Regions from separate parts of the Homo sapiens genome. Here region 2 is linked to region 1. The links come from fine-mapping of genetic effects on gene expression. A gene starts in region 1. The other region holds a variant in brackets. All regions are shown on one strand. Distances are between the middles of the regions.

What was found. PIP is the estimated chance that this variant, and not a neighbour inherited with it, causes the effect.
Region 2: its variant is fine-mapped to the expression of TMEM216 in spinal cord (GTEx, PIP 0.92).

What each region holds. Positions count from the first base shown.
Region 1 is chr11:61,383,327-61,397,497 of GRCh38, reverse strand. TMEM216 (transmembrane protein 216) reads right to left here and starts at 4,911. Exons shown (of 5, transcript NM_001173990.3): 1 at 4,833-4,911; 2 at 4,166-4,267; 3 at 3,522-3,614. The coding sequence starts at 4,866. RefSeq lists an enhancer at 4,185-5,146 and a silencer at 11,675-11,834.
Region 2 is chr11:61,469,272-61,484,910 of GRCh38, reverse strand. It overlaps SAXO4 (stabilizer of axonemal microtubules 4), which reads right to left and starts at 3,791. Exons shown (of 14, transcript NM_145017.3): 1 at 3,695-3,791; 2 at 2,993-3,129; 3 at 2,483-2,600; 4 at 2,103-2,256; 5 at 95-223. The coding sequence starts at 3,101. RefSeq lists an enhancer at 2,060-2,354. The variant G/A (reference allele first, on the strand shown) is at 5,858.

The DNA.
Region 1 (14,171 bases):
AATAATATATAATCATTTAAAAATTTTCAATGGCCGGGTGCAGTGGCTCACACCTGTAATCCCAGCGCTTTGGGAGGCCAAGGCAGGTGGATCACAAGGTCAGGAGATGGAGACCATCCTGGCTAACACGGTGAAACCCCATCTCTACTAAAAATACAAAAAAAGTAGCCGGGCGTGGTGGCGGGCGCCTGTAGTCCCAGCTACTCGGGAGGCTGAGGCAGGAGAATGGTGTGAACCCGGAAGGTGGAGCTTGCAGTGAGCAGAGGTCACGCCACTGCACTCCAGCCTGGGGAACAAAGCAAGACTCCGTCTCAAAAAAAAAAAAAAATTTCAACACAGAAAATAATTTTTGAGACTATAGAAAGTGAAAGACCTCCATGTCCCTACACCCTGAAGATTATTAGAGAATGACGTGTATTGTTTCAGATTTTTTATACGTATATATTCACATATTACTATTTATTATTATAAAAATAGAAGCATACCCTACATCCTGTTTTGCAACTTATTTTTCCCCCACAAACATTTTTCCACACACATAGCTACCTTAATTTTTTTTTTTTTTTGATAGTGTTTAATTCTGTCACCCAGGCTGGAGTGCAATTGCATCATCATAGCTCACTGCAGCCTCGAACCCCTGGGCTGAAGGGATCTTCCCACTATAGGTACACGTCACTATGCCCAGCTAATTTTTTTTTTTTTTTATTGAGACGGAGTTTCTTGTCACCCAGGCTGGAGTGCAATGGAGCGATCTCGGCTCACTTCAACCTCCACCTCCCAGGTACAAGCGATTATCCTGCCTCAGCCTCCCAAGTAGCTGGGATTACAGGTGCCCGCCACCATGCCCAGCTGATTTTCGTATTTTTTAGTAGAGACAGGATTTCACCATGTTAGCCAGGCTGGTCACGAACTCCTGACCTCAGGCAATCCGTTCGCCTCGGCCTCCCACAGTGCTAAGATTACAGGCGTGAGCCACTGCACCTGGCCTTAACTGTTCTTTTTAATTTTTTTTAATTTTTTGAGACAGAGTCTAGCTCTCTCGCCAGGCTAGAGTGCAGTGGTGCAATCTCGGCTCACTGCAACTTCCGCCTCCCGGGCTCAAGTGATTCTCCTGCCTCACCCTCCCGAGTAGCTGGGATTACAGGCACGTGCCACCACACCCAGCTAATTTTTGTATTTTTAGTAGAGATGGGGTTTCATCATGTGGGCCAGGATGGTCTCGATCTCCTGAACTCGTGATCTGCCTGCCCCAGCCTCCCAAAGTGCTGGGATTACAGGCGTGAGCCACCATGCCCAGCAACTGTTCTTTTTTAATGGTTATATACAAGTCCGTTGAATCAGTGCCGTAACTGATTTAACAATCCCGTATGGACAGATGTTTAGTTTGTTTACAGTGTTTTGATGTTACCAAATTTTTGGCAATAAACATTCTCATATAGCTATCTTCGCATATCTGTGGAATTTTTTTTTAATCTAGTTTTAGAAGTGAAATTGTTGGGGCTAACAGTAAAACATTACACAGTAATAACTACTACCCAAGAGTTGTACTAAATTAAATTACCACAAAAGTGTATAACAACCTGTTCCCCACACCCTAATACTGGGTGTTATAAATCTTTCTTTGCCAGTCTGATGGGTAAAAAATGTTACTTTGTTTCAATTTGATTTTTATTAGCGAGTTTGAGCATCTTGTCAAGTTTTACTGGTTCTCTGTAATTATTTTTACATGAACTGCCATTAATGTCCCTTACCAATTTTTTTTTTTTTTTGAGTCTCACTTTGTCGCCCAGGCTAGAGTGCAGTGGGCGATCTTGGCTCACTGCAACCTCTGCCTCCTGGGTTCAAGCGATTCTACTGCCTCAGCCTCCCAAGTAGCTGGGATTACAGGTGCGCGCCACCACACCCAGCTAATTTTTGTATTTTTAGTAGAGACGGCCACCATGTTGGCCAAGCTGGTCTCAAACTCTTCACCTCAAATGATCCACCCACCTCGGCCTCCCAAAGTGCTGGGATTACAGACGTGAGCCACTGCGCCCAGCCAATTTTTAAAGTTATTTTGTTTTTTCCTTAGTGATTTATGTGAGCCTTCTTTTATCCTTTCTTATATGTTGCAAGTAATTTTGTTCCTAAGTTTGTGCTTTAACGTTGATTTCAGGGATGACATATTCTAACAAATAAGGGTTTTGCTCTGTATTTCTGGGGTTATAAAACTTGTCCTACAGGCCAGGCATGTTGGCTCACGCCTGTAATCCCAGCACCTTGGGGAGGCCAAGGCAGGAAGATTGCTTGAGGCCAGGAGCTTCAGACCAGCCTGGGCAACAAGGCAAGACACTGTCTCTACAAAAAACACAAAATTAGCCAGGTATGATGTCGCACACCTGTGGTCCCAGCTACTCAGGAGGCTGAAGTTGGAGGACTGCTTGAGCCCAGGGCTTCAAGGCTGCTGTGAGCTATGATCGTACCACTGTACTACAGCCTAGGTGACAGAATGAGACCCTGTCTCAAATAAATAAATGTTTAAAAAACAAAATCTGGCCAGGTGTGATGGCTCACACCTATAATCCCAGCACTTTGGGAGGCCAAGGCGGGTGGATCATGAGGTCAGGAGATCGAGACCATCCTAGCCAACATGGTGAAACTCTATCTCTACTAAAAATATAAAAACTTGCCGGGCATGGTGGCAGGCGCCTGCAGTCCCAGCTACTCAGGAGGCTGAGGCAGGAGAATTGCTTGAACCCGGGAGGCGGAGGCTGCAGTGAGCCGAGATGGTGCCACTGCACTCCAGCCCAGGTGACAGAGTGAGACTCCATCTCAAAAAAAAAAAAAAATCCAACCAGGTGCAGTGGCCCACATTTGTAATCCCACCACCTTGGGAGGCCGACACAGGCAGATCACAAGGTCAAGAGATCGAGACCATCCTGGCCAACATGGTGAAACCCCGTCTCTATTAAAAATACAAAAATTAGCTGGGAGCAGTGGTGCACGCCTGTAATCCCAGCTACTCAGGAGGCTGAGGCAGGAGAATCGCTTGATCCCGGGAGGCAGAGATTGCAGTGATCCGAGATCGTGCCATTGCACTCCAGCCTGGGGACAGAGTGAGACTCCATCTCAAAAAAAAAAAACAAAAAACTCCTACAGAGATCCTTATTCAGAGAATTGTTAGGGATCTTAGTACTGATCTGTACAGGATACACTGCCTGCCCTGACGTGGAGTTACAACTGAACCTATTCCCCTAAGAATACTAGTGAGAAGAACCAAGCACTCTTCTTGCAGTTAGGCAGCTGGGAAGGAATCATCTAATATCCCATTCTATTGCCCATCTCTAGCCTTACAGAGCAACAAACAGGTAAATCTTGACCCAATGTATGAAGCAGCAACTTGAAACTTCAGAGACGGAGTAATAGGATATACAGATCCAGTCTATGATAGTCAACCTAGGTTATGTACTTTTCTTGTTAATCAAGTTACAGATACCAGCTTGTCTCATAAGGAGTGGAAATATTCTCTGGACAACACTTACCAAAAAACAGGCGAATTACTTCAATTCCAAGATAAAGGAGGAGCATCACCACATCCAGTACTAGGTTAGCTGTTGGATATGGTAGCAGGACACCTGCCAATACAAAAGCCAGAGTTTGCAAACAGCATATAACAGCACCCACAAGAACTGCCACACACTTGGGAAAAAAGAGGACATCAGTCTCAGCTTTCCATGAACTAGTTAGTGAGATGTGGGCATTATTACAGCAGCAGGATACATAAACTCACAATGCGACTCAGGCTCATTATTATGGTGTTTTACTCCTAACTCCAAAAGTCTCTGGGGACTCCACTCTCCAAAATGATTGGATGTACATGGGTACACAGGCCACTGAATAGTTTCTAAGGGTCACCAGTGGGCTTACAGTGGAGCTCAGCAAAGAGCAGTGATGTGGGCAGAGTCAGAATGGAGAAGCCCACATTTCTCAAACTCAAGAAATTCTTGCTGAGGGGCTGCCTATGGAATCATACTCAAAGAAGCCATCTGATGAGGAGGCCTGCCTTGCAGCGACAAAGAACTGCAGGGGGCAGAAAAGAACGGAAAATAAGAAGGTTCTTGGTAGGAATTGGCTCTGAGCTGAAGTGGGGAAGGGATGCTGTCGTCAAGCCCCAAGCCTTCCTTACCTTTATACAGAAATATGAAAAGTTCCAGCAGGAAATAGGTAGCATTATACCACCCGTTCAGAAAGAACAGGATTTCCAGCGGGGTGGAGGACAACCGTTTACCTGAAAAAGGAGCACAGAGAAGTGGGATGGGCCGGAAGGCAGCTCCCTCTCTGCTCGTATGGGTTGGTGTCTAACTTTGGGGAAACTAGACGCTGCAACTAATGGGACCGGCCACTCAGGGGCACTTCTGGTTGCTGATAATGAGGGGGCGAGGGTACGGGGGTGGGAGTGGAGGGGGCTTCCCTCCTTTCCTAGGAATCACCGTGAAACTCGACTCTTCGGCTTCAGGAATAAAAGTCAAGAGGTAACTCGCAGCTGACAGACATCTCAAAGATCTCACTCTGTCACTATTTGGGAGGGGAAGTTGGGGCGCAGAGACCAACAGATTCGCACCTGAGCCAGCCTAGAAGTGGCCCAGCCAAGGATCTGCGTTTATTTGAGCTGTGCACCTTGAGACCTTCAGGCACCCAGGGTGGGCGGGACCGCGGAAGCCGGCTTTGGACCAGGGAGGCGCGACGTCCCTAACGCTAGAGAATGGAGGGTTTAGGTCAAGCTCTGGGACAGAGGTGGGAGGGAGCGACCGAAGGGAAAGGGACCAGCGACTCACACACCTCCGGAATCTCACCTCGCGGCGCCATCTTCAGTCCCCGTGGCAGCATACGCTGCCACAGCGGCTCCCGGAGCAGCGCGGCGCTGCCGGAAACAGGGACGAAGCGGCCTGGGTTTCCGGCCCCTCTGCCCGCCCGCGGCACTCTGTGGTCACCCGGAGCTGGACGAGCTCGGGCCTGGCCGCAAGTGGCCCTCGCTCGGATGTCCCCTCTCCAGACCTAAGGGATAACGGTGACCACCCACGACGCCGTCGTCTGCAGGACCTCAGGGGTGCGGGGGAGGACCTTGGAGGCTCTCAGACTACCGGGCGTTGGGCGGAAGTGGCCAGTTGTGATAGTGTTACCAGGAGATTGGCAAATAGGTCCTACTCCCACGATTCTCTTTTTTCAACGGAAGACAAGAAAAGGTGTGAGCGACGGATCTCTGCAAATGCAGGGTGGAGTTAGCATTGGTCTTTTCTGCGGCCGATTTACCTACCAGGTAGAGACACGAAGGAAATAGAGCGTCCTTTCCAGGAACACACATAAATAAAATGAAACGAGTCACCACGCGATCCATAAAGTGGTGCAGTGGGAGCTGAGAGGACAAAGTGCTCCCAGGTGGAAATCTAAGTTAGTTTCCAAGAGACGGCCTGTGAGCTGGGCTTCAAAGCCTGCCTGATCCGGATTTGCAGCGGTAAAAGCGTGTTGCTGGCCGGGCTTAGTGGCTCACGCCTGTAATCCCAGCACTTTGGGAGGCCGAGGTGATGGATCACCTGAGGTCAGGAGTTCGAAATCAGCCTGGCCAACATGGCGAAACCCCGTCTCTACTAAAAATACAAAAATTAGCCGGGCGTACTGGCGCGCGCCAGTAGTTACAGCTACTTGGGAGGCTGAGGTAGGAGAATCGCTCGAACCCGGGAGGCGGAGGTTGCAGTGAGCTGAGATCGCGCCACCGCACTCCAGCCTGGGCGACAGTGAGACTCTGTCTCAAAAAAAAAAAAAAACAGAAAACTGTGTTGCTGCAGGCAGGGGAGTGCAAAAAGAAGGGTTTTGAGAGGACTCAGGTTGACTTGACTTGGCTGTTAGCCCGTTGTCAATCAGGGTAAAGCAGGAAACAGATGGCACGCTCCAACCAGGTAGCCTGAGGAAGGTGACTAAGCTTTATTTTATTTATTTCATTTTATTTTTGAGACGGAGTTTTGCTCTTGTAACCCAGGCTGGAGTGCAATGGCGCTATCTCTGGTCACTGCAACCTCCGCCTCCTGGGTTCAAGCGATTCTCCAGTCTCAGCCTCCCAAGTAGCGGGGATTACAGGTGCCCCCCACCACACCCGGCTAAATATTTTTGCATTTTTAGTAGAGACGGGGTTTCACCATGTTGGCCAGGCTGGTCTGGAACTCCTGACCTCAGGTGACCCGCCCCCCCCCCCCCCCCCCCCCCCCCCCCCCGCCTCCCAAAGTGCTGGGATTACAGGTGTGATTAATGCCCCCGGCCAAGAGTGACTAAGCTTTAAGCAAAGTGCTGTACCCCTGGCTAATTGGGATGTGGTGGGGCGGTAATTGTTACTTCTAGGCTTAAAAGGGAAGGGCCTGAAACAATTCCCTGAAGCTGGAGAGTAATATGTGCATAGAAGGCCTCCCACTAGGAACCCTCACACTCTAGGAGGCTAGTGGATAAATATAGCAGGGACCTCCATTTCCCTTCTCCCATCTCTGATCTCTGCTTATGTCTCCCGCTGACACAACTTAACTGCAAGCTGGAGGGCAAGGAAGCCCTTTAGGGTAAGTAGGAAAGCGCAGAGCACAGAGGTTAAGGTGGAAAGGAATCCAGATCCTGCTTCCCCATCTTCGCTGCCTGCAAGACAAGAGACATTAGAAAAGTTCCTGCTCTGAGCCTGATATGGAAAGAAAGTGGGCCAGCTGCACCTGGCGCGGTGGCTCACACCTGTAATCCCAGCACTTTGGGAGGCTGAGGCGGGTGGATCACTTGAGGTCAGGAATTCAAGACCAGCCTGACCAACATGGTGAAACCCCATCTCTACTAAAAATACAAAATTAGCCGGGCATGATGGCACATGCCTCTAATCCCAGCTACTTGGGGGGCTGAGGCATAAGAATCGCTTGAACCTGGGAGGCGGAGGTTGCAGTGAGCTGAGACCAAGCCATTGCACTCCAGCCTGGGCAACAAGAGTGAAACTATGTCTCAAAAGAAAAACAAAGAAAGTGGGCCAGCTGCTTGTTTTTGTAAATAAAAGTTCTTTGGAGAACGTCATCATGGTCACTTACTTACATGTTATTATATATTGCAGCTTTCATGCTATTATGGCAATGTTAAGTAGTTGCAACAGAGACCACATGGCCCACAGCCTTAAATACCATCTGACCCTTTAAGAAAAAGTTGGCTAATCTATGTCAGAGTATGCCACAACTTCATAGATGCCAAAAGCTGACAGTGAGGCCAAATTACTTATGGCAAACAGCAGGAACATCAGCATGGCAACCTGGGGGCCCCCTGCTCCCAAGTCCTATGAGTGACACAATGACCCCAGATGGTGCTGCACTCAAGGAGTTATGCCACAGCTTGGTGGAGCCCAGAGCCAAAGGCTCAGTACCCTTTTTAGCAAGCAGCAAATAAAGCCAGGCCCTTTCCACTGGGGAGGGAGAAATTATACTATCATCACACTATAGTCACTTTGGTCTACTTAATTGCTTCTGTGCTCAGTATCAGGAGACAGACTTTCTGGTTTGACATAGTAAGAACATGCAGGGATGCTTAGGACCCATGCAAGACTGTCCCAACAGCCAGTGCCCTTGCTAAATTGATTATTTCTAGGAGGCTTGTTATGTACATGATCACATCATCAGTAAATAAAGACATTTTTACTTCCTTCTCAATCTCTATACCTTCAATTTCTTTTTCTTGCCTTATTGCACTGGCCAGGACTGGCAGTGTAATGTTGACTATAAGTGGTGATGATGGATAGTCTTGTCTTGTTCCTAACCTCAGGGGAAGCGTTCAATATCTCACCATTAATATGGTGGCTATAGATTTTTTTTGTAGATACTCTTTATCAGATTAAGAAAGTCCCTTATTATCCTAGTTTGCTAAAAGGCTTATGATATATTTTATTAAGTGTGTTCTCTTAATCCGTTGAGAGGACTATATGATTTTTCTCCTTTATTCTGCTAATATGAATTACATTGATTTTCAGAGGTATGACCAACCATGTCTTCCTGGAAAAAATAAAAAACCCATTTGCTTATGAGACTGTACAGAAAAAACTTAACATAGCAGACCTGAGGCTGCTGTCTTTGGAGAGGCCCAACTGCAAGGTTGACCCTTGCCTGGCGTAAGGGAACTTGGCTTTTGGTAGTGTTCCCACCAGTTTAAAGTGGCTCACAGTGCCTAAACTGTACAAACAATGTGGCTTATGCTAAATACCTGTTCTCCTTCTCAGAGTCTGGAGTTTTGAAACATGTTAGGCAGAGGGTGCCTTCATGATCAGCTCCCAGTAAAAACCTTGGGGGCTGGGTCCAGTGGCTCATGCCTGTAATCCCAGCACTTTGGGAAGCTGAGGCAGGAGGATCAATAGAGCTCAGGAGTTCAAGACCAGCCTGGACAACACAGTGAGACCCTGTCTCTACCCAAACAAAAAAATTTAGCCAGGCATGGTGGTGCACACCTGTAGTCCCAGTTACTTCGGAGGCTGAGGCAGGAAGATTGCTTGAGCCCAAGAGGTAGAGGGAAGAGGCTGCAGTGAACCATAACTGTTTAAAAAAATAAAAATAAAAAAAATAAAACTTGGACCCTGAGTCTCAAGTGAGCTTTCCTAGTAGACAACATTGCACATATGTTATCAGAATTTGTTGCTGGAGGAATGATGAACGTCTTGTGTGATTCCCCCTGAGATAGACCTCTTGGAAGCATGCTGCTAGTTTCTCCTTGACTGTGCCTCATGTATCTTTTCCCTTTGTTGACCTTGCTTTGTATTTCACTGTAATAGATCAGAGGCATGAATACACCTGTATGCTGGGTCCCATAAGTCCTTATAGCAAATCATCCAAACTGGGTGTGATCTTGGAGACCCCTGACACAGATATGTTATCCTTTTTATATGTCACTGGATTTCATTTGCTAATTTTGTTCAGGTTTTACATATGTATCATGAGAGAGATTGGTCTGTAATTTAACTTTGTCAAGGACCTTGTCAAGGGTGGGTATTAAGGTTAAGGTGGCTTCATCCAATAAAGCGAAAGGTATTTCTTCTTTTTCTATTCTCCGGAAGAGATAGTGTAAGCTAGGTAATATTTCTTCTTCAAGTATTTGAAAGAATACACTGATGAAGCCATCTAAACCTAAATTTTTTTTTTGGTGGGGGGGAGTTTAAAATAATGAAATCCCTGTACTATATATAAGAACATTCAGATATTCTACTTCTCGAGTAAGGTTTGGGTGAATTTGTGTTTGCATAAACCTTGAATAAGGTTTGGGTAAATCATTTTGTATACATTTCCAGATGTATTGGTGTGAAGGTTTTCATAACATTCCTCAATTCTTTTTTTTTCTGTATTATAAGTCAGTAGTCAGGCTGGGCGCAGTGGCTCATACCTGTAATCCCAGCACTTTGGGAGGCCAAGGCAGGCGGATCACTTGAGGTCAGGAGTTCAAGACAGCTTGGCCAACATGGTGAAACCCCATTTGTGCTAAAAATACAAAAAAATTAGCCAGGTGTGGTGGTGCATGCCTGTAGTCCCAGCTATTTGGGAGGCTGAGGCAGGAGAATCGCTAGAACCCAGGAGGTGGAGGTTGCAGTGAGCCAAGATCATGCCACTGCACTCCAGCCTGGCAACAGAGCGAGACTCTGTCTAAAGAATAATAATAACTAATTAATTTTTAAAAATTAAAAAAGTCACCAGGCAATCCTTAAATATTACTTAATGGATGTAAGAACTGCAGTGATGTCCCTTTTCTTTCATATTTTTTTCTTCAATAGTTTTGATAGGTGTTTATCAATTTTATTAACGTTTTATTTTTGTTTTTTATTTTTTTTTATGAGACAGGGTCTCACTCTATCGCCCAGGCTGCAGTGCAGTGGCACGATCTTGGCTCACTGCAACCTCTGCCTCCCAGGCTCAAGCAATTCTCGTGCCTCAGCCTCCTAAGTAGCTGGGACTACAGGCATGCACCACCACACCTGGCTAATTTTTTTTTTTTTTTTTTTGAGACGGAGTCTTGCTCTGTCGCCCAGGCTGGAGTGAAGTGGTGCGATCTCGGCTGGCTGCAAGCTCCGCCTCCCAGGTTCACGCCCTTCTCCTGCCTCAGCCTCCCGAGTAGCCGACTACAGGCACCCGCCACCATGCCCAGCTAATTTTTTTTGCATTTTTAGTAGAGACGGGGTTTCACCGTGTTAGCCAGGATGGTCTCGATCTCCTGACCTCATGATCTGCCCGCCTCAGCCTCCCAAAGTGCTGGGATTACAGGTGTGAGCCACTGCTCCCGGCTTTTTTTTTTTGTATTTTTAGTAGAGACAGGGTTTTGTCATGTTGCCCAGGCTGGTCTCGAACTGGTGAGCTCAGGCAGTCCACCTGCCTCGACCTCCCAAAGTGCTAGGATTACAAGCATCAGCCACCATGCCTGGTTTCTTATTATTATTATTATTATTATTTTATTTTTTTGAGACAGAGTCTTGCTCTGTCACCCAGGCTAGAGTGCAGTGGTGTGATCTCGGCTCACTGCAGCCTCCGCCTCCTGGGTTCAAGCAGTTCTCCTGCTTCAGCCTCCCGAGTAGCTAGGATTACAGGCGCCCACCACTGCGCCCGGCTAATTTTTGTATTTTTAGTAGAGATGGGGTTTCACCATGTTGGCCAGGCTGGTCTCGAACTCCTGACCTCATGATCCACTCGCCTCGGCCTCCCAAAGTGCTAGGATTGCAGGTGTGAGCCACCGTGCCCAGCCTTATTAATTTTTTTAAAAACAGCTTTCGACTTTCTTTTTCTTCATCGTATAAAATTTGTTTTCTATTTTACAAATTTCTGCTCTTTATAATTTCCTTCTTCTTACTTTCTTTAGGTTTTTTGTTTTGTTTTGTTTTGTTTTTGTTTTTGTTTTTTGAGACAGAGTCTGACTCTGTTGCCCAGGCTGGAGTGCAGTGGTGCGATCTCAGCTCACTGCAGCCTCCACCTCCTGGGTTCAAAGGAATTCTCCTGTCTTAGCCTCCCAAGTAGCTGAGATTGCAGGTGTGTGCCACCACACCCAGATAATTTTTGTATTTTTAGTGGAGATGAGGTTTCACCATGTTGCCCCCAGGCTGATCTTGAACTCCTAACCTCAAGTGATCTACCCGCCTCAGCCTCCCAAAGTGCTGGGACTACAGGCATGAGCCACTGCGCCCAGCTGGGTTCAAAGTGTTTTCTAATTTCCCTTATGATTTCTTCTTTGACCCATGGGCTATTTATAAGTGTATTTTATTTTATTTATTATTTTATTTTATTTTATTTTATTTTATTTTATTTTATTTTATTTTATTTTATTTATTTTAAGACAGACTCTCTGTTGCCCACGCTGCGGTGCAATGGTGCGATCTCAGCTCACTGCCACCTGTGCCTTGCAGGCTCAAGCTATTCTCATGCATCAGCCTCCCGAGTAACTGGGGCTACAGGTGCGTGCCACCACGCCTGGCTAATTTTTGTATTTTTAGTAGAGGTGGGGTTTTGCCATGTTGCCCAAGCTGGTCTGGAATTCCTGAGCTCGAGTGACATGGTATAGGCGTGAACCACCGTGCCCAGCCTTATTTAATTTCTGAATATTTAGTGGTTTCCTAGTATGGCAGTTATCAACACTGCCTCAGCTCCAGATTCACTCTCAGTACCTGTTCTGTTCCATGATAACCGGATCGACGCTAAGCATTTATCCCGTACAGTGAGTACAGTGTTAAGCTTTGTCAGCAGAGGGCACTAGAGGGCTATTGCAGAAACAAAGAGGCTCTCCCGGGTTCCAGTGTGCAGCCTTCGGATTTTTCTAAGGAAACCATGGATGTCAACTATGACCGTGATTAGTTACAAAAATGATCAGTTACAAAAACGAGGACTGTAGCAGCGATGCATATTCTTCTTTGCTTCTTACATGCATGTGTTTATTTGTATGTACTGACCATGTCTTTTGCCTCCCTTTGTTATTTTATGTGCAAATTGTTGGAGGTCAACTTTACAATCTAGTTTTTAGGTAATAGACACAGGTAATAGTTTTTAGGTAATAGTTTTTAGGTAATAGGGATCACGACAAATCTGTGGAGTAATCTAGCCAGCTATGGATACAGTGACTGTTTGGACTGTGTGTCTTATCATTTGGGGGAAGGCTGAGAACTTCACTTTTAGAGAGGAGATATCTTGTTAGTAGGAATGTAGCTACTAAGGGAGTTCAAAATTTGTGTAAAGAGTGCATATGGTAGTGGAGTAGCTGGAAGAATGGTTTCTGCCAGTTACCTATTTTTTGCCTCTCAGCTTCATTATTTACCTACCCTTCGGTGTCTGTTAAGCGATAACTAGACTCGAAGCATTTCTCCCTACAATGAGTACAATGTTAGGCTTTGTCAGCAGAGGACGCTAGAAGGACATTGCAGGAAGGAAAGGGCTTGTCTTCTGGTTCCAGTGCACTCCAGCTAGGGGCCTTGCTCCATCGTCCATCAGCAGGGCACGCCTTGGGAGATCTGCTGGTGTTCCACTCCAGCTGCACACCCAAAGCCGGCACTCCCTTGGCAACTTTGCCGATCTGGTCTAGGCCCCGTGACCAACTTGCTGTGGACTCCTTGTCATGGTTGCCGCTTACTCCAGGCCTTCCACCTGGGGCAGCTCCCTAACTCTGTGCACCTGCCCCCTAGTCTTGGCTTACCTATGCCATGGATGGTTTTCCCCAAAGCCCTCCAGGCATGGACAACGTGCGGTCAAGGCTGTGCCCCAACTTCCTCTGTGCGTCTGCTCACCAATCTGAGTTCTTCTGCATCCCAGAGGGTTGATTCCCATCCTCCATATCCTGTGTGGACACCATGCACTCCAAGCACATGGGGCATTCCAGCTCTTTTGATGCATCTGTCTGACAGCTGGGGCTCACCTGCGACCTGGAAGGTTGTTTCCTAGGGGCCTCCCAATGCGGGTGCTATGTGCTCTGGGCAGGTGGTGTTGCTATGTGCTCTGGGCAGGTGGTGTCCCCATGTGCTCTAAGCACCTGCCTACCAGCCTTAGCTTGCTTTTGGCCTGGAGGGTTGTTTCTTGCCTGGCAACTGTGAAACAGCTCTGGCCTGGGCTAATCAGTGAACTTCACACTGCCCAGTGAGTGGCATGCAGTGAAGTCTGAACCCCTGCCTTGGGGGTGGGGACCCTACTGAGTTTGCCCTTCCTTGGGTACTTCCCTCTTTACTTCCTTATAATTCCTCTCTTATTATAGTTTAATACTTTTTTACTTTTTCTATTTTTTTTTTTAATTTTTTTGAGACAGGGTCTTGCTCTGTTGCCCAGGGCTGGAGTGCAGTGCTGCAGTCATAGCTCACTGCAGCCTTGACCTCCTGGACTCAAGCAATCCTTCTGCCTCAGCCTCCCAAGTAGCTAGGACTACAGGCACATGTCACCATGCCTAGCTAATTTTTTCTTTTTAATAGAGACAAGGTCTTGCTATATTGTCCAGCCTGGTCTCAAACTCCTGGTCTCAAGTGATCCTCCTGCTTCAGCCTCCCTAAGTGCTGGGACCGGCTGGGCATAGTGACTCACTCCTGTAATCCCAGCATTTTGGGAGGCCGAGGCAGGCGGATCAGTTGAGGTCAGGAGTTCGACATCATTCTGGCCGACATGGTGAAACCCCGTCTCTACTAGAAATACAAAAATTAAACAGGAGTGGTGGCACATGCCTGTAATCCCAGCACTTTGGGAGGCTGAAGTGGGATGATTGCTTGAGTTGCTTGAGGCCAGGAGTTTGAGACCAGCCTGGTCAACATAGTGAGACCTTCATCTTACTAGAAAGAAAAAATAGAAAAAAATTAAAAATAATCTTTATGTTTACCTAAATACTATCTTTTTTTTTTTTTTTTTTTTTGAGATGGAGTCTCACTCTGTCACCCAGGTTGGAGTGCAGTGTCGAGGTTTCAGCTCACTGCAAACTCCACCTCCCGGGATCAAGCGATTTTCCTGCCTCAGCCTCCCGAGTAGCTGGGATTACAGGCATGTGCCACCACACCCAGCTAATTTTTGTATTTTTAGTAGAGACAGGGTTTCTCCATGTTGGCCAGGCTGGTCTCCAACTCCTGACCTCAGGTGTTCCGCTTCGGCCTCCCAAAATGCTGGAATTACAGGCGTGAGCCACCGTGCCTGGCCTATCTTTTGTTTGTT
Region 2 (15,639 bases), 87 kb before region 1:
GTGAGTCAGTGCAATACTTGTCTTGAGGTGGGAGGAAGAGGCGGGTGTGGCCCCTCTGCCCCACCCCGAAGCCCTTAGCTGGGCTGCCACTCACATGTCGGAAGTTCTCCCGCTCCAGCGGGTCCTGGCCCTGCTGCTGGTGGAGCAGAGGCACTTCCCTGGGCTCCAGCCCCGTGATGGCCTGAGGCCCGTGCTCCTGGGTGTCGAAATGGACCTTCCGGACCTGGGAGGAAGAAGGGCCAATTACAAGTGAGGGGGCGGCAGTCACTCCCTGACTCTGCTTCTGCCCTTGACCTTTACAGAGCGCAGTATCTGCAGAGCAGCCAGAGGGGGTCCTTTTACAATGAAACCTGCATGTCCCCTCTCTGCTTAGAGCCCTGCAGCCTTCCCATCACACTCGCAGGGAATTCCACGTCCTCCTGGTGGCCTGCAAGGACCTGAGTGCCTCACCCTGCTCTAGCTGCTTGTCTCCTTTCTGTTCCCACCTTGAGGCCTTTGCACTTGCTGTTGGCACTGCCTGGACCACTCCTCCCTCAGACAGCTGCAACTGGAGGAGCTGGCCTCCCTCAAGTTTTTGTCCAGTGTCTCCATAGCAAGCTCTTTCCCGACCCTCCCGATTTGCAGTTGCAACTCCTTCGCTTCTAATTTATTTATTACTTACATTTTTTGAGACAGAGTCTCGCTCTGTTGCCCAGGCTGGAGTGCAGTGGCATGATCTCAGCTTCCTGCAAACTCCACCTCCTGAGTTCAATCAATTCTTGTGCCTCAGCCTCCCAAGTAGCTGGGACTACAGATGCAAGCCACCACACCTGGCTATTTTTTTTTTGTATTTTTTTGGTAGAGATGGGGTTTCACCATGATGGCCAGGCTGACCCAACAGCAGTTGGCCTCAAGTGATCCACCTGACTCAGCCTCCCAAAGTGCTGGGATTACAGGTGTGAGCCACCACGCCTGGCTTTATTTTTTTTTAGTCCAAGTCTCATTCTATTGCCCAGGCAATCTCAGCCTCACTGCAACCTCCGCCTCCCGAGTTCAAGCAATTCTCCTGCCTCAGCCTTCTGAGTAGCTGGGATTATAGGTGCGTGCCACCATGCCCAGCTAGTTTTTGTATTTTTAGTAGAGATGGAGTTTCACCATGTTGGCCAGACTGGTCTCAAACTCCTGACCTCAAGTGATCTGCCTGCTTCAGCTTCCCAAAGTGCTGGGATTACAGGTGTGAGCCATCGCACCTGGCCTCCAACTCCTTCACTTCTCTTCCTCCCTGCTTCTCCCTGTTGTATTTCCTAACCCCCGCCCCACCCCGCACTCCACCCGCTCTTATCATCTTCAAATATGAAGGAGATATTCAGAACATTCTCGCTGGATGAATGAATGAGTGTCCATTTTGGTGGTGGTGCTGATGATAAGAAGGGTGGTAATAATGAGGATAGAAATGAAAAAGATGGGGCTGGGCGCAGTGGCTCACGCCTGTAATCCCAGCACTTTGGGAGGCTGAGGCGGGCAGATCACGAGGTCAGGAGATTGAGACTATCCTGGCTAACACGGTGAAACCCTGTCTGTACTAAAAATACAAAATATTAGCCGGGTGTGGTGGCACATGCCTGTAATCCCAGCTACTGGGGAGGCTGAGGCAGGAGAATCGCTTGAACCCAGGAGGTGGAGGTTGCAGTGAGCCGAGATCGTGCCACTGCACTCCAGCCTGGGCAACAGAGTGAGACTCCATCTCAAAAAAAAAAAAAAAAAAAAGAAAAAGAAATGAAAAAGATGGGGTGAGGATGTCCATGGTGGGGGGACAGTGGTGGTAGTAGGGACAGTGATGGGGCTTGCAGGTGTGGACGGGAGTGTGAGGCTCATGGGAATGGGGACAGGGATGGGGATGGAAATGGAGGTGGAGGTAATGGTGGGGCTGGGGCAGGGAATAGAGGTGGTGGGGATGGTGGGGACAAGGATGAGGACAAAGGGGAGAAAGATGAGTGGACCCCATCCCTACAAGGTGGCTGCTCCATGCCCTGTCACCTCCACCTTGACCAACTGTTGGCAGTGCAGCCCTAGCCCCACCCCACCCTGAGGCTTCCCTCTCCTGGCCCTGGCCCAGCACTGACCTCCTTGGTGGGGGGACCCGCACTGGGCTTCTCCCGCCCATAGCCTGAGCTGGTCTGGCGCATGCTCCAGGGCAGGGGATGCTTGCCGTCAGGCACCTCCAGGGGGCGGTAGCTCTGGCTGGCCACAGACTGGAAATGGTCCTGGGCTTGTTCCCTGAGGGTGAGGAGGAGCTAGAACCCCAGGCCGCCTGCCTCTGTCCTCTGCTAAGGAGCTTCCCTCCTCCCTGCACCCTCCCACAGATGGCTCAGAGGTCCGCTGTGCCCTGAGTCACCCAGGACCCCCAGCCTAGGGCAGGCAAAGCTCAGGGTCCCCATCCAAGGAACCTGGAGTTGGTCTGATGAGCAGGGCAGGGGCTGGGAAGGGGCCATACAGACCGTACCCCCTGGCCGGGTTGTCTAAGGCCTCCAGACTGGCTTGGCATGAGACCACGGGCTGGAAATTTGATTTGTAGCCGGTGCCTACGTGACTGCCCACACGGGGCTTGAAATCCTCCCGACCTGCCAGAGGGGTAACGGGGAGACAGACCCCAAGGTCAAAAACAGGCAGGGCTTCCCAGGCAGGGCCAGCGTCCTCCGAGGGGCACAGGGGTCACAGTGACAGGGGAGGGCTCAGAGCCACGGGCAGGAGCTTTGCAAGCCTGCCCTTTCAGGACTGTGATGGCAGGAAATGGAGTGGGTGGGCTGGGGACAAGGTCAGTGTGGCAGAATCACAGTGACAGAATTGCAGGGACAGAACCAGAGAAGGGAGCAGCCGGGCAGGGCCCAGGGGACAAACGGATTCAGCAGTTGCTCTGCAGTGTGACAGCCAGAGGGTCTGCTCCTCCCTCAGAGAGAGCCCCTCCCTTCCTGCCCATGTCCTAGCAGAGGCTCCTGCGCAAAGGCACCCTCACCGTAGGCGGTGCAGTAGCTGGTGGCGTAGAATTTCAGGGGGTCCGTGTAGCCCCCCGAACTCATCTTCACATAAGGGGAGACGACCCCCAGGGGGAGTTTCCCCATCATGATGCTGTGGGGCAGGGCCCCAGGGGGCCTAGAAAGGAAGCACGGGGAGCCTCATGGGTCCCAAGCCTGGCTCGGAAGCCCACAGGGGCGAAGATCTGCCCCCCACCACCCACAACGCAGCTGGCCCCTTCTCCCAGGCCTCTGTCTCTCTGCCCCAGCTCCCAAGTCCCTAAACTAAGGACGAAACCGATCATCCACACTTATCCCAAGAGTCCTCATGTCTCCTCTCACTTTCCCACACCTTCTTATTAACTCTTCCTGTCCCCATTTACCACTGGGACAGTGAGGTTCCAAGTGATAAAGGATTTGCTCCATAATAGGTGGTAGTGCTGGGATTCAGACCTAGGTGTTTGACTACTCGGCCCCTGACCTGAACCTTACATACCCACCTCTCGGAATGAATGAGCCGACAACCCACTACCTGGGGAATTCTTGGCCCCCACCCAAGAAGTCAGGCCGAGGCGCTCACTCCCAGCCCCCGGCTCCTCTCTCTCCCTCATCTCCATGGCCTTGCCCGCCTCTGGCCTTGCCTGCCTCCCCTGGGAATTGGCTGCACTCTCCCCGAGGCCCAACCACAGCGGCCCCACCCTCACCTTTCCTCTGCAGAGGCTCTGAGGTCGGGGAGAGGCTGCAGGAAGCAGAGCTCTGCAGAGAAGCCAGCCCTCCTGGAGGAGGCCAAGCAGGAGAAACAATGTGTAGCCTAGCAACTGGTGCCTAGCAACAGCGTCCCCAGGCTTCTGAGACCTTCTAGGGCCAGGGCCCACTGAGGGGCTGACCTGGCCAGGAGGGGAGGGTCAGAAGCTGCCCGAGCAAGGCCCTGCTTCCAGGGCTCCGGCCCCAACCTCCGGCCTCCTCCACAGGGCTGGGAAGAGTTGCTGTCTGCGTGACATAAAATAAAAGATAATCCCGAACACTCACTCCCATAAAGTACCCACTTCTCGGCAGATACTTTACATCCTCTATCTCCATCCTCTGAGCAGCTCTTCAGTAGCTATGATTATCCCCATTTTCACTGGGGGAACATGAGGCTTAGATAAGCAAAATGACTTGACTCCAGAGATCTCGCAATCAGAAAATAGCCAAGTTGAGATTCAAACGTGGGTGGATGTGGATCCCGCTCTTCTGCCTCTCGGTAAATCAACATTTACTATGTTCCTCTGGAGCTGAATCTGTGCTAAGCCCTTTAACACACATTACGTCGTGTAATCCCCCAAACCACCCTGTGAACTGGGCACTATTATTGTAGGGCCAATAAACCGCAGCAGTTAAGAGTGTGGTTCAAATCTGATCTGTCACCTTTGATGAGGTACTTATCCTCTTCACGCCCCCAAATCCCCATCTTCGCAAGGGACGTGACTGCACCCACCTCACAGGGCTGCTGGCAGATTTAGCAAGAGCATGGATTCAGCACCTGACAGGTAGTAAATGCTCTTTTTTTTTTTTAAGAGAGACAGGATCTTATGCTCTCACCTGGGTTGGAGTACAGAGGTACCATCATAGCTCAGTCCAGCCTCCAACTCCTAAGTTCAAGCAATCCTCTTGCCTCAGACTCTCAAGTAGCCAGAACTACAGGTGTGCTCCCCCCTGCCTGACTTGCTTATTTATGTATTTATTTGTTGTAGAGACAGCGTCTTGCTATGTTGCTCAGGCTGGTCTTGAACTCCTGGCCTCAAGTGATCCTCCTGCCTCAGCCTCCTGAGTTGCTGGGATTGCAGGGGCAAGCCACCACACTCGGCAAATGCTCAATTTGCAAAAGCTGCTGTACTTTTAGTCTTATTTTGCAGATAGGAAAGGCGAGGCTCAAGGGGAAATAGCCCAGGCCCCACAGTGGGTGGAGACGGAGCCTGGACTCAAATCTGAGTGCGCAAACTCCACAGTGAGAATCTTCTTCCATGACAGCCTTTTTGCCTCAAATTGGCTTTCAGGCTTGTAAATGTTGTAACAGTTAGATCTCTGGGTGGGGTGGGATAGCCCTACTTTGCAGCATTTGCCAATTTCTGTGATGTCAGTGGTCCCATCAGGGCTGCTTTCAAACCACCACTACAGTGTCTTTGAACCGGGACATGGGAAGGTCGCTCACCACTGTACGGGAGTAGTCCCATCATGCAGACATAATGGGCGTAAGTAACCTCGACAGCACAAATAATAGAAAAATGTACTCACATAATTAAGGGGTGATGAGTTTTAGGTATTTTTTTTTGTTTTTAATATAATTCATTAAATTGCAGGTTTAAGTTATTTATTTATTTATTTATTTATTTATTTATTTATTTATTTATTTGAGATGGAGTCTTGCTCTGTCCCCCAGGCTGGAGTGCAGTGGCACGATCTCAGCTCACTGCAACCTCCATCTCCTGGTTCAAGCAATTCTCCTGCCTCAGCCTCCTGAGTAGCTGGGATTACAGGTGCACGCCACCACGCCCAGCTAATTTTTGTATTTTTAGTAGAGATGGGGTTTCACTATGTTGGCCAGGTTGGTCTCGACCTCCTGAGCTCAAGTGATCTGCCTGCCTCAGCCTCCCAAAGTGCTGGGATTACAGGCGTCAGCCACCGCGCTCGGCCAGTAATTTAATTTTTAACAATGGCAGAGTTAAAAACCAGCTTGCCAATTTCCTGGAAGTTTCGCCTTCAGCTCTCCTGAGCCGGTAGAGCTGGCTTCAGAGCACCCCTGCTCTCAGGGGAGAGTGAGGTATGAATGAAGGCTGAATAAAGGGAAAGGAGGCATCTCCTTTCCTCACCCAGGAGATGCCCTTGCC[G/A]CATTCATCCTGTAGTGACCTGGCCTGCCAGGGTGGAGGCTCACTCGTGTCCTCACCCAGCCCCCCATGGGAAGGCAAGCTGAAGCACGTTTGGCACCCACCCTCCGGACTAACGATTCTGTTCAGGGATCACAGGGCACAAGGACACAGGAGTGAGTGCACACAGCCCTGCCCTCCAGCAAAGTGCTCCCATTCTACTACAGAGGCTCGTGGGAGTTCCACACACGAAGCACAAAGGGTGAGACCACCATAGGTGAGGTGCTCACAGGGTGAAGGGAGAGAGGGGCCCTCCTCTAAGTGTGCCTGGATAAGTGGCTACGAGCAAGAGCTTGGACTCTGAAGCCAGATGGTGTGGGTCCTGTCTCTGCCACTAGATAACCGTAAGACAGTGCATGTTCCTTGTGCCTCAGTTTCCCCTTCTGGAGAATGAGTATAATAATGGTAACTACCTGCAGGGTTGTGGTACGCACGAAGCATTTAGCCCAGTACCTGGCACACGGTAGGTGCCATCTAAGAGCTAGGGAAAGAGGTTCCTTTTGAGTACTCACTGCCTGCTAGGCAAAGGGTTGGGCCTAAGGGTTACAAACAGGAAATCCACATGGCCCTGGCCTCAGAGAGCCCACGGTTTAGGAAGGATCTCAGATGTAGCAAAAGAAAGCTCACTGTGGGAGCCCGAGTTCAAAACCTGCTTCTGCTGTGTGTGACTCGGGGCTTCCTCTCTTTGAGCCTGTTTCTGTACCTGCAGGCAGGGATAACTGTGCCTACCTAGCAGGGTCGCTGGTGGATTTGAAATACCCTATGCACAAGAGGTAACAGGCCTGCACCAGGCAGAGATAAGGAAGGGCCCTCTACGTGGAAAGCCCGACAAACACAAAGGCGGAGACAGGTGTCCAGCAGGCTGGGAGCCCTGACTAGTGCAGCGTGGCTGGAGCACTGCGTGGGGAGGAGAGGCTCAGCTGGGAGAAGCAGCCCCCAGGTAGGCTGTAGCCAGGTTTTCCTTTTAGCAGGTGGAGGGGGCAAGGAGGGGTGGTAGAAAGGTTTGAAATCATCCCTTAGGGCTTCTCTTAGGGAGGCTCTAGGCTGTAGCCGACCAAGGACCTGGGCAGGAGTTCAAGGGTCGGGGATCAGGGTCTGGCCGGCGCTGTCCCATCAGAGCCCCCATTAGGTCCCGTCCTCCCGGCGGCCCGTGGGTTTTTTGCTGTGTGGCGACACCCAGCGGCCATAACTCGGAACTGCAGGAGATGCCGCAGATGAATCCCTAAGACCGGGGTCGGGGGGTCCTAGGAGTTGGGGACAGAGCAGCTCCGTCGACCTGGCCACAGCCCCACCCCAAGCCTCACTCACCCATCCCTCCAGAACAGGAGGGTTGCGTCTGGGCAAGGAGTGTTCCGGGAGGGCAAGCGCTGGAGCCCACAAGGAGCGGGAGCCCAGGTGCCAGGTGACCCAAGAGCAGCGTGACTTTTGGACCTGTCACCTGTGGACCTCAGTCCTTCTATCTACAAAATGAAGGAACAGACTAAAAGTCCTTCCATACTGGAAAATCTAGGCCCACCTCATCCCACTCCCTTCCCATATCTGTCCCCATTTATTCAGCACTTTATTGTGCCAGAGCTGAGCTACGAATCACCTCATCATCGCTTTTCACTCCCGGCTCTACGTGGGAACTACTATAATCCTGCCCATGTTACATGTGAGGAAACTGCCTGAGGCCTCGCAGACAGGGAGGAGTGGAGCTGGGATCCAAACTCAGCTTTGACCCTGGAATCTATGCCCCGCCCTCTGGAACACACCAGCAAATTCTCCAGAAAGCGCCGGGACCTTAGCACTGGGCTTTTCCAAAGGGATGATTTTCCAAAGGGATGGGCTGCCCTGGCCAGATGGGCAACTGCCTCCTACTTTCTAGCTCTGCCCAGTCCTGGGCAGTAAGATTCCCGTTTCCAGCCGGGCACAGTGGCTCATGCCTGTAATCCCAGCACTTTGGGAGGCCAAAGCAGGCAGATCACCTGAAGTCAGGAGTTCGAGATCAGCCTGGCCAACATGGCAAAACCCCGTCTCTACTAAAAATACAAAAATTAGCAAGGCATGGTGGTGGGCGCCTGTAATCCCAGCTACTCGGGAGGCTGAGGCAGGGAGAACTCCTTGAATGCAGGAGTAAGAGGTTGCAGTGAGCCGAGATTACACCACTGCACTCCAGCCTGGGCGACAGAGCAAGACTCCATCTCAGAAAAAAAAAAAAAAGATTCCCCTGTTTCCCTCCCATACGAAGGCAGAGGCTACAGACACACTAGGTTAGCAGAGAGGACCCAGTGAGAGGACATGCTGGGTCTCAGCCCATAGAGTTCCTTGGCTGGGATCAGTGGGGTAGGCCCTAACAGGCTCCCGAGGCCAGAGCACACCACCACTGAGTGCTGAGTCCTGAGCAGAGACAGACATCTGCGCTCTGTGCTGGGCCATGTGGGCTGCAGTTCCCTAAAAGAGGATTAACTGAAGTGAATGAGCCACACACCACCAAGTGTGTGTCATTTTGCTTTGGTTGATGTGGGTCTTTATAGCCGCCCTCAGAGGGAAGCCAGGGCTCTTGTAGGGAAGAGACAGGTTGGCATACTTCAGCTTAATGGATAGAAAAGCCTCCTAACACACAAAATAATCCAATAGGGGAACAGGCTGCCCTGGGGGGAGTGAGTTCCCCATCCCAGGAGGCATGCAACAGCTTGACAGGATGACAATAAGAGCAAACTTTCACTGGTTCGTTAGGTATCAGGGACTGTTTCTAAGCACTTCCCATGATTAGCACAATTAAACTTCACCGCATTCCTACCTGGTGGGTGGTATCAGCTCCTCCATTTTATAGATGAAGAAACTCAGACACAGAGAGGCTGCGTAACTTGTCACAGGTCACACAGCTACTAAGGGGAAAAGCCATTATTTGAACCCAGACATCCTGACTTCAAAGGTCATGCTGGTGACCACTTTGATATTGCCTCAAAGGTTGAGCTAGAGGTTCTCAGATCTATTTTCAAAATCTGACCTCCTATGACTTTTTAAATCTCTTTTTAAACCTGATTACCTCTATAGAGAAAAAAAAATAAAAAGATTTTAAGAAAATGTTTATAGAGACAGGATCTTGCTTTGTTGCCCAGGCTGGTCTCAAACTCCTGGCTTCAAGGGATCCTCCTGCCTCGGCCTCCCAAAGTGCTGGGAATACAGGTGTGAACCACCATGCTAGGCCTAAAAATCCTTTTAAAGAGTTCACCCCTCTCATGGTCCTCAGTTTGTGCTGGGCACTGCTGGGTGAAAAATTCACAGAAGAAAGGTCTGAAATTGTTCGAATCAGCTAAGATGATTGAGAAATGGGAAACAGATCCCTGGGATGCAGCTAAAGGCACTGAGCCCTCCCAGCCCAGGAGGCTGGGGGTGGCAGGGAGAGGGTAATTATACTCCTACTTTTGAAATTCCCATGCTGGAGGCTGGGACAAGCCTAGAGTAATGTTTCTTGGCTTCAGGTGATCTGAGGTTACATGCCTGCCCCTTTCTGAGCCTTTTCTAGGCTTGAGTTTGAGGTCTGGCTCTGGCACAAATAGTGCTATGTGACCCTTCTTAATTAACTGCCTCCCTCTGATCCTGTTGCCTGTGAAGAGGGGGTTGAGCCAGGATAGGAGGTTTGGCTTGCTTTAGTTTGAGATGTGTTGTTTGGCCTGGAGAACTTGGAGCTCTGTCTTCATATACTGAAGTGATGGCTGGTTCCACGTCCCCTCCCCCTGGGCCCCTCACCTGCCATCTGTGACATAGCAGGACCCCAGCCTACCCCCTTCCAAGGTCCTTCCCCTCTGCCTTATTACAGCGGGGCATGGAGGGGAGTCGGCCTCATGCCAACCCACACTCAGCCTGGCCTCTAGGCCTGCTGGACCTGCACAGGGAGTTTCTCCCAAGCCAGACTCCAAGGTGCCCACAAAGGACACAAGGGCTCACTGAACCCCTCATTCTGCCCCCAGAGTACTGTTTCCCAACCCAGATTCTTCTGAGCCCACCAACAAAGCTCACCCAGGTGAGATGCCCCAAGCTCAGCTGCTCCAACTGACCCTTTCAGGGGAGCAGTTTGAAGCTGGGACGCAGCATAAAGGGGATCATGGCAGAGAAGAGCTGACTGGGAGGACATCAAGTCTGTGAGGCCCTGTCTTCCCTGCGATGGGGAAGAGCATGGAGCCCTGGATTCGTGCAACCACCTTTCTGTCTAGTCCTGGGAGTGGGGGCTGCCCTGCTTCATGGGCTCAGCTGTGTGAGCACCAAGGAGTGATGGGTGACATAATGACCGTGGGGGCGCAGGTTGGGTCCAGGGCGTGGTCTGCAGGCAGGCCTGTCATCGATTTTGCCCATTTCCAGTTTCTCTGCTCTGTGACTTGCAGTGATTAAGGCAGGAGAGCTGCCCAGGACTGGGGCCCCCCTTCCGAAAGTGCTTTGGGGGTTCTATTCACTGAGCTGTGTCATTACCAGGAACTGAAATAGCCCAAGTCTAATGGCTAAGTCCCATCTCTCTCTCTTTCGTAAAAGGAAATGATTCCCCTGATGACCGGATTGCTTTCCCTCACAGCCTCCCACAATCCTGGCCTCACTTGTGGTTCATTTCTCCCCTCAGTGGGCATTTCCTGGAAGACTCTATCCTGTGTATCTGATGGCTGTTCTGTTCCTGCCTGTTCTGTTCTTTTACTGTCTCCTCTGGGTGAACTTGTTGATCTCACACAAGGTTTAAAAATTCATGACTCGCGGGGAAGATGAAATGAGATGAGGCAGAAAATAAGAAGCCATTCCCAATCCTCAGATGGAATGAAGATATTCTTGGCAGAGATGAGCAAGGAACCAGGACAGGGGTCAAGGGGGTGGGTTTCCAATGCACAGAGATCTGGGTTCAATTCTGCAGCCCTGCCTTTATGAGGTATGTGCCCTTGGACAACTTCCTTAACTTCTCCGAGCCTGTTTCCTTGGCTGTATGATGAGGTCACAGTAGAACTTTAAGAGACTTAGGCTTGGAATACAGAAAAGACAATATTTACATGCTTAGCACACAGCCTGGCATAGAGAAAGCACTCAAGAAATGTTTATGATTATCATTGCATTTTCCTGCCTTCCTTGCAGTTAGATAAGGGCCACATGGCTGGTTCTGTGGGTGGAATTGAGCAGTGCCACTCCCAGTCTGAGTAGTTAGAGGTGGGTGTGAGTTTTCCATTCTCTGTGGGTAGAAATCACACTTGGGATGGAAGAACCAAAAGATGGAAGCAGGCTGGATCTCTGAGTCACTGCATGGAGTCAGCTGCCCTGGAGCTGCTTTTCCTGCAGCACACTGGGATGTGATAGAGAGATAAACCTTGCTGCTTTAAGCCTCTAAGGTTTGGGGTTTTGTTTGTTACTGCGGCATAAGCAAAGAAATGAAGATTTGAGAACTTCTTAGGAAATAAATTAGGATGTGATTCTGTATTAGTCAGCATTCTCTAGCAAAACAGAATGTGCACACACACACATACACGAGAGACAGAGAGAGACAGATTTATTATACAGAATTGGCTCTGCCTGGGCCAGTGATGCCTGTAATCCCAGCACTTTGGGAAGCTGAAGTGGAGGGTTGCTTGAGCTCAGGAGTTCAAGACCAGCCTGAGCAACACAGTGAAACTCCGTCTCTACAAAAAAAAAATTTTTTTTAATTAGCTGGGCATGGTAGCATGTGCCTGTAGTCCCAGCTACTTGGGAGGCTGAGGTGGGAGGATCACTCAAGCCCTGGAGGTTGAGGCTGCAGTGAGCCATAATCGTGCCATTGCAGTCCAGCCTGGGCAACAGAGTAAGACCCCATCTCAAAAAAAAAAAAAAAAAAAGGAATTGGCCCACGTGACTATGAAGGCTGGCAAGTCCCAAGATCTTCAGGATGAGTTGGTTGGCAAGCTGACGACCCAAGAGAGCTGATGGCTTAGTTCCAGAGTAAGTCCAAAGGCTTGAGAACTGAGAGAGCTGATGTAGTTCTTGTCTCAAGGCCAGCAGGCTTGAGACTCAGGAAGAGCCAGTGTTCCCAGGCGAATCTGAAGGCAGGATAAAAGCCTGTGTCTCAGTTTGAAGGCTACCAGGCAGAAAGAATTGCCTTTCACTTGCGAGAGTGTAAGTCTTTTTGTTGTATTCAAACCTTGAGCTGATTACATGAAGCCCACCCCGGTTAGGGGGACAGACTGCTTTACTCAGTTTACCAATTTAAATGCCAATTTCATCCAAAAACATCCTCATAGAAACACCCAGAAGAATACTCGATCACATATCCAGGTACCCAGTCACCTAGACAAATTGAGACACAAATTAACTGTCACATTCAGGCATATGAAACTCACTGGAAGCAGACAGATGAGAGGCCTACTGAAATTTTGAGAAAACAGTAATGCCCAAAAAAAATGGGGCTTTTTTTGTTTGGTTTTTGTTTTTTTTTTTTTTTTTTTAGAGAAAGGGTCTTGCTCTGTCACCCAGGCTGGAGTGCAGTGGCGCAATCATAGCTCACTGTGACCTCAACCTCCTGGACTCAAGAGATTCTCCCGCCTCAGCCTCAAGTCGCTGGAACTACAGGCATGAGCCACCGCCCCTGGCCATGGGCCTGGTCTTTAAAAAGATTGTGACTATTTGAAACTTAAAACTTCCATGGGCAGGAAGTGGGCTGAGAAATCCACACAACCCTCAAGGAGGGTGGAACACACAATCCCTACTTCAGATATGATCGAGTAAAGTAAGGTAGGGGAAAAAGAGCTTTAAATGAGGGAGCCAAGCGGCCCTGAGAGCAGCGATGAAGGTAGTTCCTTCCAGAAACTTCCCTACCCCTCCACAAGGTCTGCCCAGAAGGCCTCAGCTCCCACTTCCCGGGGTATCCTTACTGTGGTTATCCTGTCCCTGCCCCTACTCCACCTTTGTGTATGGCGTGGGGGTGGGAAGGGAGAAGCAGGTAACCTGCCTTTTTTTTTTTTTTTTTGAGATAGAGTCTTGCTCTGTCACCCAGACTGGAGTGCAGTGGCATGATCTCAGCTCACTGCAACCTCTGCCTCCCAGGCTAAAATGATTCTTGTGCCTCAGCCTCGCGAGTAGCTGGGATTACAGGTATGCGCCAGCACACCTGGCTAAATTTTGTATTTTTTAGTAGAGATGGGGTTTCTCCATGTTGGCCAGGCTGGTCTCAAACTCCTGTCCTCAAGTGATCCACCTGCCTCGGCCTCCCAAAGTGCTAGGATTACAGGTGTGAGCCACTGTGCCCAGCAGGTAACTTTTAAAATTTATTTTTATTTTTTATTTATTTTTTTTTTGAGACGGAGTCTCGCTCTGTCGCCCAGGCTGGAGTGCAGTGGCACAATTTTGGCTCACTGCAACATCTGCTTCCTGCGTTCAAGCGATTCTCCTGCCTCAGCCTCCTGAGTAGCTGGGATTACAGGCACGTGCCACCACACCTGGCTAATTTTTTTTTTTGTATATTTAGTAGAGACAGGGTTTCACTGTGTTGGCCAGGCTGGTCTCGAACTCCTGACCTTAGGTGATCCACCCCCTTGGCTTCCTAAAGTGCTGGGATCACAGGCGTGAGCCACCGCACCCGGCCCCCAACAGGTAACTTTTTAAAATTCCTACATCTCTGGACCAAAAAAGGCCACCTCTAGACCTCATAAAGAGACCCTAGGGCAGCCCATGAGATCCTGGCTGGAGGCAGGAGCTGCACATCACTCTGGGTTTTCTCTCTTGGAAAGCAGTTTCATGTTGTGTGTTGTGTGTAGGAAGAAGAGCAAATCCAATGCGGTACATGGAGACCAGCAGAACAGACTGTGGTAGAGACTTCAGGCTCAGCCAGATCTGGTTCTCTTCTCCTTCCTGGGTACCAGGGAGAACCACACCTCCCAGGCTCCTTGCAGTTCCACAGGAACATGTGACTAGCTCCGGCCCAAGGGCTCGGAGAAGTGTCACGTGTTGCTTCCAGGTTGCAAGTGAATGTGAGTTATCCGCACTTTCTCATTCCCTTTAGTAGCAACCGTGGAGACCACATGTTGAGATGGCAGAGCGTGGATCCCTGGGCTGCCACAGAAAGGAGCTGTCCTGAACAGCTGCCCAGTTCACATTGGACTTGGCACAAATGAGAAATAAGGGTTGCGTTGTTAAGTCGCTGAGATTTGGGGGTTTATTTATTATCATAGTCTAGCCTAACGTGACTAGTACACCTTTCAATTAGATAGTGGCTAACTATATCATGCATAGGAGGGAAAGGAAACATCTAGAAAGTATGGTAAGTTTGTGGTTTTAAGAGAATCCTGTGGCTGGGTGCAGTGGCTCAGGCCTATAATCCCGGCAATTTGGGAGGCTGAGGTGGGAGAATTGCTTGAGGCCAGGAGTTTGAGACCACCCTGGCCAACATAGCAAGACCCTGTCTCAAATTTAAAATTTAAAAAAGTTAATTAAAAAAACAAAAAAAAAAAGCCCGGGCACAGTGGCTCATGCCTGTAATCCCAGCACTTTGGGAGGCCAAGGCAGGTGGATCACAAGGTCAGGAGTTCAAGACCATCCTGGCCAACATGGTGAAACCCCGTCTCTACTAAAAATACAAAAATTAGCCAGGCACGGTGGCAGGCGCCTGTAATCCCAGCTACTCGGGAGGTTGAGGCAGGACAATCGCTTGAACCCGGGGGGCAGAGGTTGCAGTAAGCCGAGATCGTGCCACTGCACTCCAGCCTGGGCGACAGAGTGAGACTCCGCCTCAATAAATAAATTAACCAATTAAAAAAAAAAAAGGCCAGGTACAGTGGCTCACGCCTGTAATCCCAGCACTTCAGAAGACCGAAGTGGGTGGATTGCTTGAGTCCATGTTTGAGACCAGCCTGGGCAACATGGTGAACAAAAAATTAGCTGGGCGTGGTGGCACATGCCTGTGGTTCCAGCTACTTGGGAGGCTGAGGTGGGAGAATCGCCTGAGCCTGGAAGGTTGAGGCTACAGTGAACCAAGATCTCGCCACTGCACTCCAGCCTGGGCAACAGAGTGAGACCCTGTCTCAAAAAAAAAAAAAAAAAAAAGAGAATCTCATAAAACACTCAAAACATTTTCCACTAACTTGTTGAGTCTCATTAACAACTTCCATTTGCAACAGATATCAATGGTCTTGGATCCAGCACAGGCAGCTTCATAAAGAGTCTCTACCTTCATTTATTTCATCAGTCAATTAGTCATTCAATGAACATTTAATGAGCACCAACTATGTGCCAGGCACTGTGCTAAAACACAGAACAGAATGGAACGTAATGTATGTATGGTCCTTATCCCCCATGGAACTAGTAGTAGAGAGAGTTACACATAATCTCTCTGGGCTGGGCTTGGTGGCTGGCACCTATAATCCCAGCACTTTGGGAGGCTGAGGCAGGCGGATTGCCTGAACTCAGGAATTCAAGACCAGCCGGGGCAACATGGAGAAAGCCGATCTCTACCAAAAAAAAAAAATAGCCAGGTGTGGTGGTGTGCGCCTATGGTCCCAGCTACTTGGGAGGCTGAGGTGGTAGGATTGCTTGAGCCTGGGAGATAGAGGTTGCAGTGAGCTGAGACTGTAGCACTACACACCAACCTAGGTGACAGAGTGAGACCCCATCTCAAAAAAAAATTTTTTTTTAATAAATAAATAATCTCTCTGTGCTAACCTAAGGGCCGTGTAGGGTAACAGTACAAGCATGCTTACTGGAGGCCAACGTGCCTGAGTTCCAATTCCAGTTACTTCCATGTAATGTGCTTGCTTAGAACAGTCTCT